Linked DNA regions of Homo sapiens: region 1 is linked to region 2. A link means that fine-mapping ties the variant in region 2 to the expression of a gene that starts in the linked region. Tissue or cell type: thyroid. Region 2 holds a variant in brackets; the other region holds the start of a gene. All regions are shown on one strand. Distances are between the middles of the regions.

Region 1 (8,180 bases), 22 kb before region 2:
AGAGGGAACACACAAGTGGCTTCTGGGGCACTAGCAATGTTCTGTTTCTTGATCTGCTGCTGGTTACACAAATGTATTCCATTTGTGAAAATTCATCAAGATATATACTTGTCATTTGTGCATTTTTCTGCATGTATATTATAAATTAATTTTTTAAATTGTGGTAAAAAAAAAAACCATAATGTATACAATTTAAAAAATTTTTAGGCCGGGCGCAGTGGCTCATGCCTGTAATCCCAGCACTTTGGGAGGCCGAGGCGGGCGGATCACCAGGTCAGGAGACCGAGACCATCCTGGCTAACACGGTGAAACCCCGTCTCTACTAAAAATACAAAAAATTAGCCAGGTGTGGTGGTGGGCACCTGTAGTCCCAGCTATTCGGGAGGCTGAGGCAGGAGAATCGCTTGAACCAGGGAGTTGGAGGTTCCAGTGAGCCGAGATCGTGCCACTGCACTCCAGCCTGGGTGACAGAGTGAGACTCCGTCTAAAAAAAAAAAAAAAAAAATTAATGATCAATGGAACAAAATGAAAAAAATCCAGAAATAGACCCAAATACATATGGCAATTTGGTATTATAAAGGTAGCATTCAAAAACAATGGAGAAAACATGGGTTATTCAATAAGAAGGATTTGAATAAAACAAAACAAAATTGGATCTCTATCTCACACCTTTACACCAAAATAAATTCCAGATGAATCAAATATTTACATATACAAAGACACTATCAAAGTACTTTTTAAAAAAACATAGGAGCTTTAAGAATAATCTTAAATAGTGGGAGACTTTACTAAAAATTATATGAAACACAGAAGTTGGCCAGGCACAGTGGCTCACGCCTGTAATACCAATACTTTGGGAGGCTAAGGCGGGTGGATCACTTGAGGCCAGGAGTTTGAGACCAGTCTGGCCAACATGGCAAAACTACTCCGAGTCTACTAAAAAATACAAAAATTACCCAGGTATGGTGGTACATGCCTGTAATCCCAACTACTCAGGAGGCTGAGGCACGAGAATCTCTTCAACCTGGGAAGCAGAGGTTACAGTGGGCCAAGATCATGCCACTGCACTCCAGCCTGGGCGACAGAATGAGACTCTGCCTCAAAAAAAGAAAGAAAGAAACCCAGAAATTATCAAAGAAAATATTGATAAATTCAATTACATAAAAATTTTTAACATTTGCAAAGAATAACCATAAACAGGCTGAGGGCAATGGCTCAGGCCTGTAATCCTAGCACTTTGGGAGGCTGAGGCAGGCTGATCACCTGAGGTCAGGAGTTGGAGACCAGCCTCAAAATATGCAATATACATAGAACAAACTTGGAAAAGGGAAAATACTTGTTATATGTATAAACAATATACATAGAACAAACTGGGAAAAGGGACATACTTTTTTTTTTTTTTTTTGGAGATGGGGTCTCGCTCTGTTGCCCAGGCTGGAGTGCAGTGGCAATCTCGGCTCACTGCAACCACCGCTTCCCCAGTTCAAGTGATTCTCCTGCCTCAGTCTCCCAAGTAGCTGGGATTACAAGCGCTTGCCACCATAACCGGCTAATTTTTGTATTTTTAATAAAGACGGGGTTTCAGCATGTTGGCCAGGCTGGTCTTGAACTCCTGACCTCAGGTGATTAGCCTGCCTCAGCCTCCCAAAGTGCTGGGATTACAGGCGTGACCCACCACACCTGGCCGGGGAAAATACTTTTAACTTATATACAAACAGCAAGTATTAAGAAATGACCCTATAACCAATAAAAATATGAACAGAATATAAAAACAGAGAATTTACAAAAAAATTGCCATTTAAATATATTAAAAGATGCTCAACTTTACTTATAAGAGCAATGAAATTTTATCTTGCAATGAGATAGCATTTACACTATCAGATTGTCAAAAATCAGGAAGTTTAACAGCACCAGTGTGCTATCAAACAGGTTCTTTTCATACATTGCTGACAGGAGACAAAATTGGTAAAATTTCCAGGGAAGGCAATTTGGTAATACTAACTAAAATCATTTTCAAAAATTGCTGGTGGGATTAAAATTATAAAAATCTTTGTGGGAGGAAGGGAATTTACAAAATTTTATCTATCCAAATGAAAAAACAATGCACACATTTCTTTAACTTGGCACTTGCATTTCTAAGTATTTATCATACACATATGCAAGAGGGAAATGAAGTATCCTTGCATATCAATCAAATGTTAAAGGACTGGTTAAATATATCTTCATATATCCCTCAGGCATACTATGAAACTATCACTATGAGGCAGATACGTATATGCTGCTACGGAAACATTTCCAGACTGTATCAAAGAAAGTTGCAAAATAGTATGTATGTTATCAACTGGGTTAAAAAAATATATGTGTGTGTATATATATATACACTTTATATATTACACATATACACACGTTAACTATAGAATATCTTGTGAAATTTTTCACAAGAAACTGGTAACCCTAGTTGCCTTGAAGGAAGGAAAATTTATTCACTATAATAACCTTGTTTCTTCTGAATTTTGTAGAATGTAAATGTATTACTTATTCAAAACGCATACACATTTTTATATTAATAGAAAGCAAAACCTGAGGCCCAAAGGCATCTGCCTAATTGACAAAAGATACAACCTTGCGTTCTTTCAGCAAATATTTATTGCTCATCACCTGCCAGGTATTGTGATGGAAGCTAGTGCGGAAGATCCCCCAATGACCAGGATCGCCCGACCCCTGTTCCCAGGGTGAGCCCCTAGCGCGGAGCGGGGACAGGGTGGACCGAGTAGGGCGCAGTGCTGGTCTCGCGAGGCTCCCTGCCCCACGGAGGCAGTAGCAGGACCCAACCGTTCCTAACCGTCCAGGGACCAGGACAGCGTCTGGAATAAAATCTTCCAAAGCAAACTTCCGCCTGCGGAGACCCGCTCCCTTCCTCGCCCCCACAGAAACGCCCCCCGCCACCACCCCCTCCCCCGGCGTAGGCCTTCACGCTGTCGCCTCGACCCGTTTCCTCGAATCCCCAGGGAAGGGTGGGCCCCTGGCGCCCCTATGGCCCGCCGCCCCCTTACCACCGCGGTCGGAGCCCGGGTCTCACTCTCCTGCCGCTGTTTCGGGCCACACCGTGTGTCCGTGCCTCCGCAAAGGAATAGAAGAGTGGGTCCTCGCTCTCTGCGGCGCACCGCTTGTCCCTTGACTTCCTGTCCATCTACAAAGCCTATTTCATGTTTTCCAGAAAGAAAACGTTTTCCGTGTCTCTTGAGTCCTCATCGCCATATGCGGGGCGGGACCGATCTATGCAAAAGATCGCAAGAGAAAACTGATGGAGCATCGCCCATCATGAGGCTGCTCTCCCGATGGTCACTGAGTTGTGTTGTGGCACTGTCTTTGTACAAAGACACCAATTTTTGCGAACGGTGCCACTCATGATTCAACGCTCTCATGCCTCGGTCCCAGCTGCTGGAGCGCAGATTTTCCTCCAAGGGTTAGAAGATAGAAAACTCCTCGGTAATTGGCCTAGAGGTGGTCTGCGAGGACGCCGGGAAGCTTGTAATTGGCTGTTTAATTCTCAGCAGGTGCGGTCTCAGTTAACAACATCTGCTTTTCCTGGATCTTATTGGCTGACAGGGTGGGCCTGCTTTGGATTCCATCCGGGTAATTGGGCAGCGGCTAGCAGCAGCCACGTCGCTCAGGGGCAGCCCGCGGAAGGATTGGTTGTGACGGGAGAAGGCGATTGGTCGGACTGCGAGCAGGGTGTTGATTGGTGCTGTCGGGCTGCGGGGGCGGGGAAGTGGCGGCTGAAGCGCCGCCGGCGGGGCTCACTGTGGTGGTGTGAGTGGGAGGCGGCGGCGCTGGTGGCTGCAGCTGGGGTGAGGCGCGAGGCGGCGCACTCGACGGCTGACTGGAGCAGCGGTAAAGGCGAGGATGGAGACCGAAGGTTTGGGGAGTGGGAAAGACAGGGTCATGGGCAGCCCTGGCCACTAGGAGACGGAAATGCGGGAGCGAGGGAAGGGAGGGGTCTGGCGTGCCCCGGGGCGAGGGAAGGATGTGGGGCGCAGCGGGGGAGTCAGAGCCCTGGGCTGTGAGACGCCGCTCGGGGGCAACTTGACCCACTGGGAACTCGTAACTGTATCTGAGGAAGATGCTCCAGTCACCCGCTTACGCCACAACGGACCCGGTGCGGGAGCGTTTGTGTTTGCCCTGAGTCAGTTCAGACTCTTCCACTGGGCCTTTTTGAGACTGAGAGCTGCCATCCGTATATCACTTTGCCTTTAACTTTCCCCAGCTTTTTCTTTAGTTATCGCTAATAGGATGGCTGTTTACAGTCGTCAGAATAATACATTGGGGTTTTTGTTTTTCCAGTATCCCTCATTCCTTAATCCAGGTATCATCGTGGGGGTTGGCTGGAGACCCCTATTTCAAAGACTGACTTTTAGACCCTTTCCTTGTTTTGAGAGAAAGGGGTTGACACTTTTTTTTTTCTCGTGAATTTAAAATAAACGTACCAAGGATGAGAACATTGAGCTGCTTCGATTCAAGCATGTCACCATGTTGTAGGTTCTTTGTAGGTTCTGGTTATTAGGAGATACTGGAATGAGTTATCTATGCTTTCATGGAGCTAACAATGTGATTTGACTTCTCATCACATCCTATTTGACTCCTGTCATTTTAAATGATAAAGTAAGCCTTAGCGATGCATATCAGATAGTTTTTGGCAATTGTTCAATACAAATGTCAGGAAATTTCAAAGTTAGCTTTCACTGAAAACCATTATCTAACCACATTCCTCACTGAACAATGATCCTCATCTTCTCTTCTTAGCTTCCCCTAGAAACTGTGGTCTTAAGTTCTAGTATTTTCCTCCTTCCCATTCAATTTTTAAGTAATAAAATCAAACACAAGCTAGCAGTCAGTACTATGCAGTTATCCCCGTTTACATTATATTATTTTCCATTTCTCTTTAAGAGAAACTTATAGCTGAAAGGATATGAAAATTGTGAACAAAACCATAGTGACAGATCAAGTAGAGTCTCATTTTTTGAGACATCAGCTGATAACTCAATTAGCACAAATTCATTTGTAATGTTTGAAGAGGAGTTAGTGAAATTTACCTTTTGCTTCAAATAGAAGTCGGCCAAAACCGCACCTATAATCTCAGCTACGCCGGACGACTGCGGGAGTTCAAGGCTGCAGTGAGCTATTATCATTCACTGCATTCCATCCTGGGTGACAGACCAAGGCTCTGTCTCTAAATAAACAACAACAAACTCTCCAATTCATCTGTTCTCCATCTCCATCATTGACACCTGGACTAGGCCCTGATTGGTCTCCTGCAGCCACGGTTGCTGCCTTCAATTCATTCTCCTCACCACGGACACAGATGTTAATCAAGAATGACAAGCATGGCATGTGTTATCAAGGGATATTGGGGATTCTGTGGAAACCCATAGCAATGTAATTCAACCCAGTGTAGGGGGTCGAGATTGAGGGGCCTTGGCTGCAGAGACCCCTCTGCACTTGATCTTGATAGTGTCAGAACTGGAAAACAAAAGTGCTGCTAGTCCTTTGGGCCTCTGTAAAGAGGTGTGATTATGACTGGCCATCAAAACAGACTTATTTCTATTGCACACTGTATTGTGTAGAAATGACTAATGAGCTGTGTGATCTTAGATCAATCCTTTTCTATCCCTTAGCCGCAGTTTCCCAAATTGCAACGTTATTAATGGAATCAAATAAGTTCTGTAGTCCCTTCTAGTTATAAAATCTTGTGATTTCTATGCCCCATAAGCATCAATTATGGCCAGTTTTTAAAAGCAGACAGCATGAAAATACAGATCCAGTTTATTCTTGTTCACAGGGCTAGATTTCAGTTTCCCAAAGCCCTTAAGACCTAAAGACTCCTGCCTGTCAAGATCTTCCTTGCCAGACAGGAAACTCCATGAAGGCAGCTGCCAAATCTATCTTGACTGTTGTGTCCCGAGGGTCAAGCACACATCAGAATTCGATATTTATTGGCTTGAATAAATGTCCATTTAGTGCAGTTCATTCATGTAGTATAGGTTTGCGGAAGAAAAGTGAGTTGTATTTTAATGAGATGATTTTCAACTATACACCATCTAAGAAATAAACCTTAAGGTTCTAGCTACTTTCAACTGTCGCATTGACCAAGAATTTATACAGTTGTCCCTCCCTTCGTTATTTGCAGGGGATTGGTTCCAGGAACCCTGCAGAACCCAAATCCATAGATGCTCATGTCCCTTGTATAAGATGCATATTATTTGTATATAACCTACACACATCTTGCCCTATACTTTTTTTTTTTAAACCCCTTGAGACAAATTCTCGCTCTGTTGCCCAGGGTGGAGTGCAGTGGTGTCATCAGTTTACTGCAGCTTCCACCTCCTGGGCTCAAGCCATCTCCCACCTCGGCCTCCTGAGTAGCTGGAACTACAGGTGTGCAACACCACGCCTAGCTAATTTTTTTTTTTTTTTTTTTTTTTTTTTTTTTGTAGAAACAGAGTCTCACTATGTTGCCCAGGCTAGTCTTGAATACTTGGTCTCAAGCAGTCCTCCTACCTTAGCCTCTCAAAGTGCTGGGATTAACAGGCATGAGCCACTGTGCCCAGCCTGTTTTGGTGTTTATGTTTCCTAGACTATGAATATTTCCAAGTAGAAATTCTTCTTCCTCCTTCTGTCCCCAACGTGCTCAGCACACAAGAAAGAGCTAGCACTATTTAACCAAGATGCATTAATAATGGAAACAAGCTTTGCACTTTAGTGGTCATATAAGAAAATACCTAAGCCAGGCGCAGTGGCTCACGCCTGTAATCCCAGCACTTTGGGAGGCCGAGGTGGGCGGATCATGAGGTCAGCAGTTCGAGACCATCCTGGCCAATATGGTGAAACCCTGTCTCTACTAAAAATACATAAATTAGCTGGGCATGGTGGCAGGTGCCTGTCGTCCCAGCTACTCATTAGGCTGAGGCAGAAGAATCGCTTGAACCCGGGAGGCAGAGGTTGCAGTGAGCTGAGATCGTGCCACTGCACTCCAGCCTGGGCAACAGAGTGAGACTCCGTCTCAAAAAATATATATATCTAAAGTAATCAGGGGACAAAAGAAGTCAAATTCTTTCTAGACACCAAGAATAAACCATCTCAATGTAGGAAAGTAGCAGTTTGGGAGGTGTGTATTCAAGAATTATTTAAGTCAAAAATCTCCTTTATGAAACAACTTGTTTCCTTTCCTTTGGTATATACAACGATGCTTATATAATACCATCCAAACTTTCAGGATGGTGAAAGCTTTTATTTGCAGTGTATTTAAAAAAAGAGAAGCTTATCCAATGACTTGGGAAAAGAACCTCATAAATGAAAACAAACAGCCTACATTAACCTCAACCCTTTCTGTCCTACATTCTAAAAAGGTCGGGAGAGAACAGTATTCCCTCAGATTGATAGTCTCTAAAAATGATATACTGAATTCACTGAGTAACTAATGACCCAAAATAGACGACACCCTTGAAAAGAGGTACCCATCCCCCACCTCGGGTAGTAAAAGGCCGTTTTATTATTTGCTCAGGCTTTTGAGTCCGGGCAAGAAGGTGGATTAAATTTGTTTAAAACCAGGATATAGAAAAAATAGATTTGGCAAACTTCTGGTAGTTCTCTGAAGAACTTTATTCAGTTCTGTTGATCAGTAAAGCTGTGAGGCCAGATGCAAATTCTGGTCATCTGTATGACAGTGTAGTAGTCTACCCTTCTCCGTGGTTTTGCTTTCACTTACCCATAGTCAATCCTGGTCCAAAAAGATTAAATGGGAAGTTCCATACGTAAACAATTCTTAAGTTTTAAATTGTGCACCATTCTGACTAGCATGGTGAAATCTCCATCCTGGCCCAGACGAGAATCCTGCCTTTGTCCAGCATATCCATGCTGTATATGCTACCCGCCTCTTAGTCACTTAGTAGCCATCTTGGTTATCAGATTGAAAAAACCTATAGTTTTCAGTACTCCAAGGCATCCACTGGGGTTCTTGGAACATATTCCTCGAGGATAAGAGAGGATGACTGTTGTAAGAAATCTACCTCCAGCCTCCCTTACCTGACTATATCTGCTCCTCAGTGAGATTTCGGTGCTAGATGTTCTCCTTTCTCTCTTTACTCTTCCAGATTGACTGTGCTTTCCCTGAAAGCCTAAGT
Region 2 (8,180 bases):
AACCTTTACTCTTTAGAGGTTCCCTGATATAAATCATTCATAAGACTTCCTACCCTGGAAAATGAGTAATGTCTCATTCTTACCTGCAGTTTGTTACTATGTATAAAAGTCTTTTTCTTTAATATGCCTTTAAGTCTTACCTGTTTACAGCCCATTCTGATGGGTTCTTTGTCATTCTGTTAGTATAACCCAGTACTTTTCCTGCTGCCTGGAATGCCCTCTTCTATGTTACCTATTCTGTCCGTTGAGATCCCCCAACTTGGGCCAAAGCCAAGAGATCTATGTGCCTTCTCTGGTTTTCTCCACATCTATAGCACCTCAACTGAAATATATGGATAAAAACAGCCTAACAAAGCTCAGTCTTTCTGAACTAGGAAGTTCACTGATTAGTGCTCAGTAAATGGTTAGAATAAATGGGGAAATAGTTTGGGGCATGGAGGAAGGCAAAGGGAACCAAAAATCCTTAGGTACTTTCCTCCGTAGTTCAGGTCCCTGTGATCTTTTCAGTGAATTTAGCTCTGTTAAGGTGTATATCCCACTCCAGTCAACCCTATTACCCACCCCCCCAAGAAACCGTGAACACTTGATGATTGCACTACCCTTTATTCCTAGGATGGAAAGTGTCCTGAATCACATCCCGGGCCCCTGATTCCATGTGTCAAGGCTTCCAGCCCCTCAAAGCGTTGGAATAAGCATGTTCAAGGAGGCTCACTGGGCAGGTGGCCAACATCCCTTTCAAGGGGATACACCATAAAGATGACATTGTCCAAGGGAGGGAGGGCAGGGTGATCTGGTCTGACCACCTCAAAGCCCATGTAGCTGAAGGCCCGCAGCAGGGCACCTGTGAAAGGATAGAACAAATGATTAGAACATGCTTTAAAACTCAATACATGTATGCCCCCAGATTTGATTTCTTCCACTAGGGAGTGGCCCTGGGAAGCAGTGTAGTGCAGGCATATAGGATGTGCTTTAGTCCAACAGACCTAGGCTCTAACTCTGGTTTTAACACTTGTTCTGTGAGTTAGTCCTGCAGAACTTCAGTTTCCATCTATAGAATTTTCCATTTATAAATCATAGAACCTTCCTCCTCACAGAATTTAAGATGAAATGAGATGTTCATGAAGTGCTTAACACTAGAGATTAGTGAGGTCTACCTATATACTAATACAATGATGACATAGTAAGCTCTGAAATAGTATCTATCACTTATGAATGGTTATTCACCATCCCTTATATCCAACAGAGTTTGAGCTCCTTGAGGCAAGAGGCTATAGTTTCTGTAACATATGCTCCAGGCATCCGGTTAAATATGTCCCCGTTCCCTTGGCCTTATGTCTGACCCTTTCACATTGTAGGTGCTCCATATGTTTGAGATCCATTTTGTCCTGCTGGCCACATCCCTTGAATGGATTCTGTGTAATTTCACCAGTGCTCCTTCAGTCTGGCCCCTAACACCACCTGCAGGGGCTTCCTCAGAGTCCAGTTGTAACTTGATGGAACAAGTTACAACTTCCCACCTTCGTGGTAGGTGGGAAGAAAAGAATCCCTGAAATGCCTGAGGGTGCATTTTTAAAGACAGGGGAAGAGGGTCTCCTATAAAGGAAAAGGAGTTATCCAGCTGCCTCAGCGCGAAAAGCAAGGAAGAACAGCAGATCCCCACCTCTGTCGTTCCGATCATTCTGGAAGTTCACAAACACAGAGTCCACATTTGTCTTCTCTTCCACGTACTCCAGGGTTGCAGTCAAACTAGGAGCCACAGAAAAACAGTTAAAATGTTTGGCCGCTCCCTCTCCCTCTCCCTCTCCGTCTCCGTCTCCCCATGGTCTCCCTCTCCCTCTCTCTCCACGGTCTCCCTCTGATGCCACCAAAGTTGTGAAAGCCGAAGCTGGACTGTACTGCTGCCATCTCGGCTCACTGCAACCTCCCTGCCTGATTCTCCTGCCTCAGCCTGCTGAGTGCCTGGGATTGCAGGCGCGTGCCGCCATGCCTGACTGGTTTTCGTATTTTGGTGGAGACGGGGTTTCGCTGTGTTGGCCGGGCTGGTCTCCAGCTCCTAACCACGAGTGATCTGCCAGCCTCGGCCTCCTGAGGTGCCGGGATTGCAGACGGAGCCTCGTTCACTCAGTGCTCAGTGTTGCCCAGGCTGGAGTGCAGTGGCGTGATCTCGGCTCGCTACAACCTCCACCTCCCAGCCGCCTGCCTTGGCCTCCCAAAGTGCCGAGATTGCAGCCTCTGCCCGGCCACCACCCCGTCTGGGAAGTGAGGAGCGTCTCTGCCTGGCCGCCCATCGTCTGGGATGTGAGGAGCGCCTCTGCCCGGCCGTCATCCCGTCTAGGAAGTGAGGAGCGTCTCCGCCCAGCCGCCCATCGTCTGGGATGTGGGGAGCGCCTCTACCCGGCCACGACCCTGTCTGGGAACTGAGGAGTGTCTCTGCCCAGCCGCGACCCCATCTGGGAGGTGAGGAGCATCTCTGCCCGTCCGCCCTGTCTGAGAAGTGAGGAGCCCCTCCGCCCGGCAGCCGCCTCGTCTGGGAAGTGAGGGGCGTCTCCGCCCGGCAGCTGCCCCGTCCGGGAGGTGGGGGGCAGCCCCCGCCCGGTCAGCCGCCCCGTCTGGGAGGGAGGTGGGGGGCAGTCCCCACCCGGCCACCGCCCCCTCCGGGAGGTGGGGGGTGCGTCTGCCCGGCCGCCCCTTTTGGGAAGTGAGCCCCTCTGCCCGGCCGCCACACCGTCTGGGAGGTGTACCCAAGAGCTCATTGAGAATGGGCCATGATGACGATGGCGGTTTTGTCGAATAGAAAAGGGGGAAATGTGGGGAAAAGATAGAGAAATCAGATTGTTGCTGTGTCTGTGTAGAAAGAAGTAGACATAGGAGACTCCATTTTGTTCTGTACTAAGAAAAATTCTTCTGCCTTGGGATGCTGTTAATCTATAACCTTACCCCCAACCCCATGCTCTCTGAAACGTGCTGTGTCCACTCAGGGTTAAATGGATTAAGGGCGGTGCAAGATGTGCTTTGTTAAACAGATGCTTGAAGGCAGCATGCTCGTTAAGAGTCATCACCACTCCCTAATCTCAAGTACCCAGGGACACAAACACTGCGGAAGGCCGCAGGGTCCTCTGCCTAGGAAAACCAGAGACCCTTGTTCACTTGTTTATCTGCTGACCTTCCCTCCACTATTGTCCTATGACCCTGCCAAATCCCCCTCTGTGAGAAACACCCAAGAATGATCAATAAATACTGGGAAAAAAAAATTTGGCCAACTCAGAATCCAGAAAGACACCTACTTGGAGCAGTAAAAATATTATTGGTCGTTTTCTGCCCTCCACCCACCCAAGCCAGGAAATGAAAGTTGCTAAACTAGTTTTGGTAGATTTTTCTTGGAAGCCAAGAGATTGCACATCACTGGATGTAAGCCACAGAAGGGGTCTGGGGAGAAAGGACTACTGAGATGAACAGCTAGAAAGTACTTCCCGTTATTCAACTATTTCTGGATCTGAGTCCAGCTTCCCATGGACTCTTATCCCTTGAACCCCAGATCCTGGCTCAGCTCACAGGCTTGTCTGCATGCCAGGTGAATGGATTGCTTATATCTAGCTCCAGAATTAGCCTTATGTACTATGACATGATAGAAGGGTGAAATCCCCTACCTATTCCCTCCCCATTCTCCCATCCAGGCTCAGTCACCTTTCCCGGTTGCCTTGATCCAAGGCCTGATATGGGATATCCAGGAAGAGTCGACGGTCACAGAGAAGGCCGTGCCAATGGGCAGAGGTCTGGGAGGTAAGGCGGAAGTGAAAGTCTAACTGTACTGGGTCCTGGTGGAGCAGGGGGTCAGTAGCCAGCACCGTCAAGTTCCCAGCCTGGAAAAGGAGTAAAAATGCTCCTCTAGTCTTCAAATCAGACCTCAGGCAGATGGGGGTGTGTCCGTTGAAGCAAGGTGGGCATTGATGGGGAGAGCCTGGGAGAATTGGAG[C/T]CAAGATCTTAAAGATGCAATAATATCCCTTAGTCCCAGGAACTAATAGCCTATGCCTATTGTGGAGTTCTCCTTTATATCAAACAATCCAGCTGAGGCAGTATTACTGCCTGTTGACTTCAACCCAGGAGTACAATAACCATTTAGGAACTTAGAAATGTTTACATCAGAGAGCTTAGGATTTAAACAAAGCTTTATAATGTGCTTCCTTTCTCACTAATAATTTCCACTTTTTTCATTATATGGGTTTTCTCTAAATTCTTCTATTTAAAATGCCATGGTTACAACCAGGCTTGTTATTGCAATATGATATGTGGGCAAGTTCTGGATTCCAGATCCTGCTTAGCATCTTTAAGCAGGATCTTGGCATAAACAGCTTTATGTCCCAGAAGTCCTACAGAGTTTGTTTTACCTTTGTCCCCACTCCCTCTTTTCCCAATCCTGATTTTCACTACCATCTGTATGACCTTGATTTTACAGTCTGTGGGCCAGAATGCTTGTCTATATAGCAAGTAGCTTTTACACATGCGTTCCAAGATTCCATCTACCTCTGTAATTCATCTTCCAACTTGCTAATGTCCCTCCTCTGCAAGGTATGCAAGAAAAGGGTTGCCCTGTCACAGCACTAGCTCACAGTCCACTTACCGAATACAGTTCTTTAAGCTGGTCGTGGTTACCCTGCTCGGTGCTTTTGCCCTCCTGGAGGCCTACTAGGGACTCAGGAGCACTGGAGGCAGGAACGGGGCTGGAGTGTCAAGTCCTCCTCTTCCTTATAAGTGATGCTGGTTGGGAAAGAGACCCAAATTAGTTTATCTTGGAATCTGAGGTGGGAAGATACACAGTACCAGGCTCTGGCATGATCTTCTGTATTTTCTGTTGTCCAGCCTGTTTCTATGTTCCTGGGCCCAACCAGATGGAAAAATTCTAAAGTTCCATGCCAGCTTTCCACCCCCTATTCTGTTGTTATTTCTTGCCATTTGGGAAATTCTTTCAAATTCTTTTACTTTTTCCTTACATTTTATATAAACAACTACAAATAGAGATGAAAACAAGTACCTTTTATAACAACGAGGCAGCATCTTCTCCCGGAGAGTGATCCGGTACTTGTAACAGTAAAGGTAATAGGCGTATGGTGACCAGATCGGGTAGAGGTAGTTACGTGTTTTTCCCCTCTTGATATAAGAAAGGGAGTAGACAGAGGGGCGACACCTCTTACAAGGCAGTTTTTCAGTTCAGTGCCTCCCTGTGGCAAAGTGAAGTTCACAGGTGGGTGGCAGAGGTTTAGGCAACCTGGTGGCATTGTGACCCAGTGGGCACTATGACATGGATAAGGGGTCAGCCCTTATGTCACCTCAGGACTCCACTCTGCTGCTTATCTACCCTAATCCCTTATCCAAGGCTCATATTCGACTAGTATGCATGTTATGGCTGTATGAATGATTAAAAAATAGAACTTGAAGACTTCTGTACTGGTTGGCCAAAAGCCCTGCCTGAGCACTTGTGCCCACCCACCCTGCTCCTCTGTGGACACTCCCCTTCCCCCAAAATCCAGCAAGTAAAGAGTTGGTATCTGACTCTTCCAAGGCTCTGATCCAGTGGTGACCTGATTAGTTGGTTCCCAGTTCATACCAGTTGAGTATTTTTATTATCATCCCTACCCTTAATAACCCAGGATCCTTGTAGGGTAGGAATTGCAAACTAATTGTCTAGGCCCCTTCAGGGGCCTAGACAGCTTATGGAAATTAGTGGAGTGGCAGGGTAGGGCTGTAGCAAAATAGGAAAGCTCACACGTTATCTAAAGGAAGTCCACACAACTCAATTCCATCCAGTTCCATGCAAGAATGCAGACTTGATGGTGCTGTATCGTATGATTTTTGAACAGAAACTGGAAAGACAGTTTTGTAGTAAATCTCACCAATTTTAAAAAATATCGACTACTGGGCCGGGCACGGTGGCTCACGTCTGTAATCCCAGCGCTTTGGGAGGCCGAGGCGGGCGGATCACGAGGTCAGGAGATCGAGACCATCCTGGCTAACACGATGAAACTCTGTCTGTACTAAAAATACAAAAAATTAGCCGGGCGTGGTGGCAGGCGCCTGTATTCCCAGCTACACGGGAGGCTGAGGCAGGAGAATGGCGTGAACCCAGGAGGCGGAGCTTGCAGTGAGCTGAGATCGTGCCACTGCACTCCAGCCTGGGCAACATAGCGAGACTCCAACTCAAAAAAAAAAAAAAATCAACTACTAAAAAATTGTTGATAAAAAAACAACATTGTAAGCAAAATTTGGTTCTGGGACTGCCACTTTGAGACCTCTGCATATTTATCCATTCAACAAATATTTATTGAGGGTCTACTATTAGCCAGGCACTATTCTAGGTGCTTGAGATGATACATCAGTGAACAAAACAAATCCCTGCCCTATGGAACGTATCTTCTAAAAGTGAGAGGACAAACCTAGAAAATAAACATAGTAAATTGTTTAGTATGTTAGAAGGTAACTGCTATGGGGTGGGGGGAATAGAGCAAGATAAAGGAAGATAAGGAATGTGAAGGGGATGGGTCAGGGTTACAGTAAGAAATAGGGTGATCTCTCACTGAAAAAAACTGACATTTAATTAAACACTTGGAGGATGTGAGGTTGTTAACCAAGCCAGCATCTGAGGATAAGAGCATCCAACGCAAAAGCAGCCAGTGCAAAAGCCCTGAGCAGGAAACGTGCCTGGTGTTTTCAAGAAACAAGGAGGCCACTGTGGGTGGAGCAGTGTAAATTAGAGAGGAGCTAATGGGGTCAGAGTATGTATGGCCTTGTAGACCATCTGATGGCCTTTTTCTTTTACCTTGAGTAAAGGAGGAAGTCATTACAAAGTTTTGGGTGGAAGAATGACATGATCTGACTTATGCTTTAAAAAGATCATTCTGGCTGCTATAAATAAGCTACATAGAATTATAAACTGTAGAGAATTAAGGGATATCTTTTAGGGGACTATTGCAGTAATCCAGGAGAAAGTAGTGTCTTATTCCAAGGTAGAGCATTGGAGGTGGTGACAAGTGGCTGGATTCTGGAAATACAAGTGCTCCTTGACTTAAAATAGGGTTATGTCCTGATAAACCCATCGTATGTTGAAAGTATCATAAGTTGAAAATGCATATAATACACCTACCAAACACCATAGCTTAGCCTAGCCTATCTTAAACATGCTCAGACAACTTATCCGACAGTTGGGTAAAATCATCTAACACAAAGCCTATTTTATAATAAAGTGTTGAATATTTCATGTAACTTATTGATGTCCTACTGAGTGCACATCACTTTCACACCATCACAAACTCAAAAATTGTAAATCCAAGTCAGGGACTATCTGTAATTTAAAGGTAGAACCCACAGGATTTCCTGATGGAGTATGAGAGAAAAGAGTTAGAATGGAAAGAATGGAGTTTCTGTCAACTGAGAGGAAAAAGGCTGCAGATGGGGCAGTTTTGGGGGCGAGGGGGGAATAAATAAATTAGTTTGGGACAGTTAACTTTGAGGTGTCCTTTGGATACGTAAGAGGAAAATGACGAATAAACAGTTGAATATTTGAGACGAGTTTGGGAGATGTCTAGGATGGAACTAGAAATTTGGGAGTCATTGGCTTATAAATGGTATTGTAAGCCACGAGACTGGATGAGATCAACAGTGAGTGTATACTGAGAAGAGTAAAGGTTCAAAAACGGAGTCCCGAGGGCATTCTAAGAAGCGGGGAGAAAAGGAGAAATCAGCAAACGAGACTGAAGAAGACCGGTGTCCAGGAGGCCAAGTAGTGTATTTAGGAGGAAGGAGGACTGGTCAGTATGTTTAAGGGCCAGTCTTTCCATAATCTCTGCCAAATGGACCTTCTTTCATCCAGTTTTTATGGTCTTCTGTCCAGTACTGAGACCCTCCCCAGAGGGAACTGTCGCGGCCTTACCATAGTTGCTTTTTTTTCTACGGTTTACATAGCTTGTGATTTAGAATTCTCCTTTATTAGCTTAAATACTGCAGTATAATGATTAAGGGTCAGGCTCCTCCTGGAGCTGGCAGAGTTTTCCAAGGGATCCCATCCTTTACCACTTTTAGGTAGATTTGAAGTAAGGAAAAGTGAGAGCATCATTCATTCTCCGGTCAGTATCCAGTCATCACAGAACGTTAGAATTAAAAGTTAGCCCAGCAACTGGAGCTACAGCAAA

Direction of the effects. Alleles are on the strand shown, and positions count from the first base shown. SD is a standard deviation of normalised expression in the study named.
For the expression in thyroid of the gene that starts at base 3,799 in region 1, C is the low allele of the variant in region 2 and T is the other (moderate effect, 0.41 SD a copy in GTEx).

What was found. PIP is the estimated chance that this variant, and not a neighbour inherited with it, causes the effect.
Region 1: TDRKH starts here. The variant in region 2 is fine-mapped to the expression of TDRKH in thyroid (GTEx, PIP 0.95).

What each region holds. Positions count from the first base shown.
Region 1 is chr1:151,786,119-151,794,298 of GRCh38, reverse strand. TDRKH (tudor and KH domain containing) reads left to right here and starts at 3,799. Exons shown (of 13, transcript NM_001083965.2): 1 at 3,799-3,919. TDRKH-AS1 (TDRKH antisense RNA 1) reads right to left here and starts at 3,550. Exons shown (of 2, transcript NR_146292.1): 1 at 3,054-3,550; 2 at 1-484. RefSeq lists a silencer at 3,855-4,114.
Region 2 is chr1:151,763,738-151,771,917 of GRCh38, reverse strand. It overlaps OAZ3 (ornithine decarboxylase antizyme 3), which reads right to left and starts at 5,263. Exons shown (of 5, transcript NM_016178.2): 1 at 5,030-5,263; 2 at 4,619-4,755; 3 at 3,685-3,860; 4 at 1,661-1,746; 5 at 588-841. The coding sequence starts at 5,196. The coding sequence ends at 699. It also overlaps a transcript of TDRKH not described here. RefSeq lists enhancers at 1,457-2,151, 2,152-2,848. The variant C/T (reference allele first, on the strand shown) is at 3,974.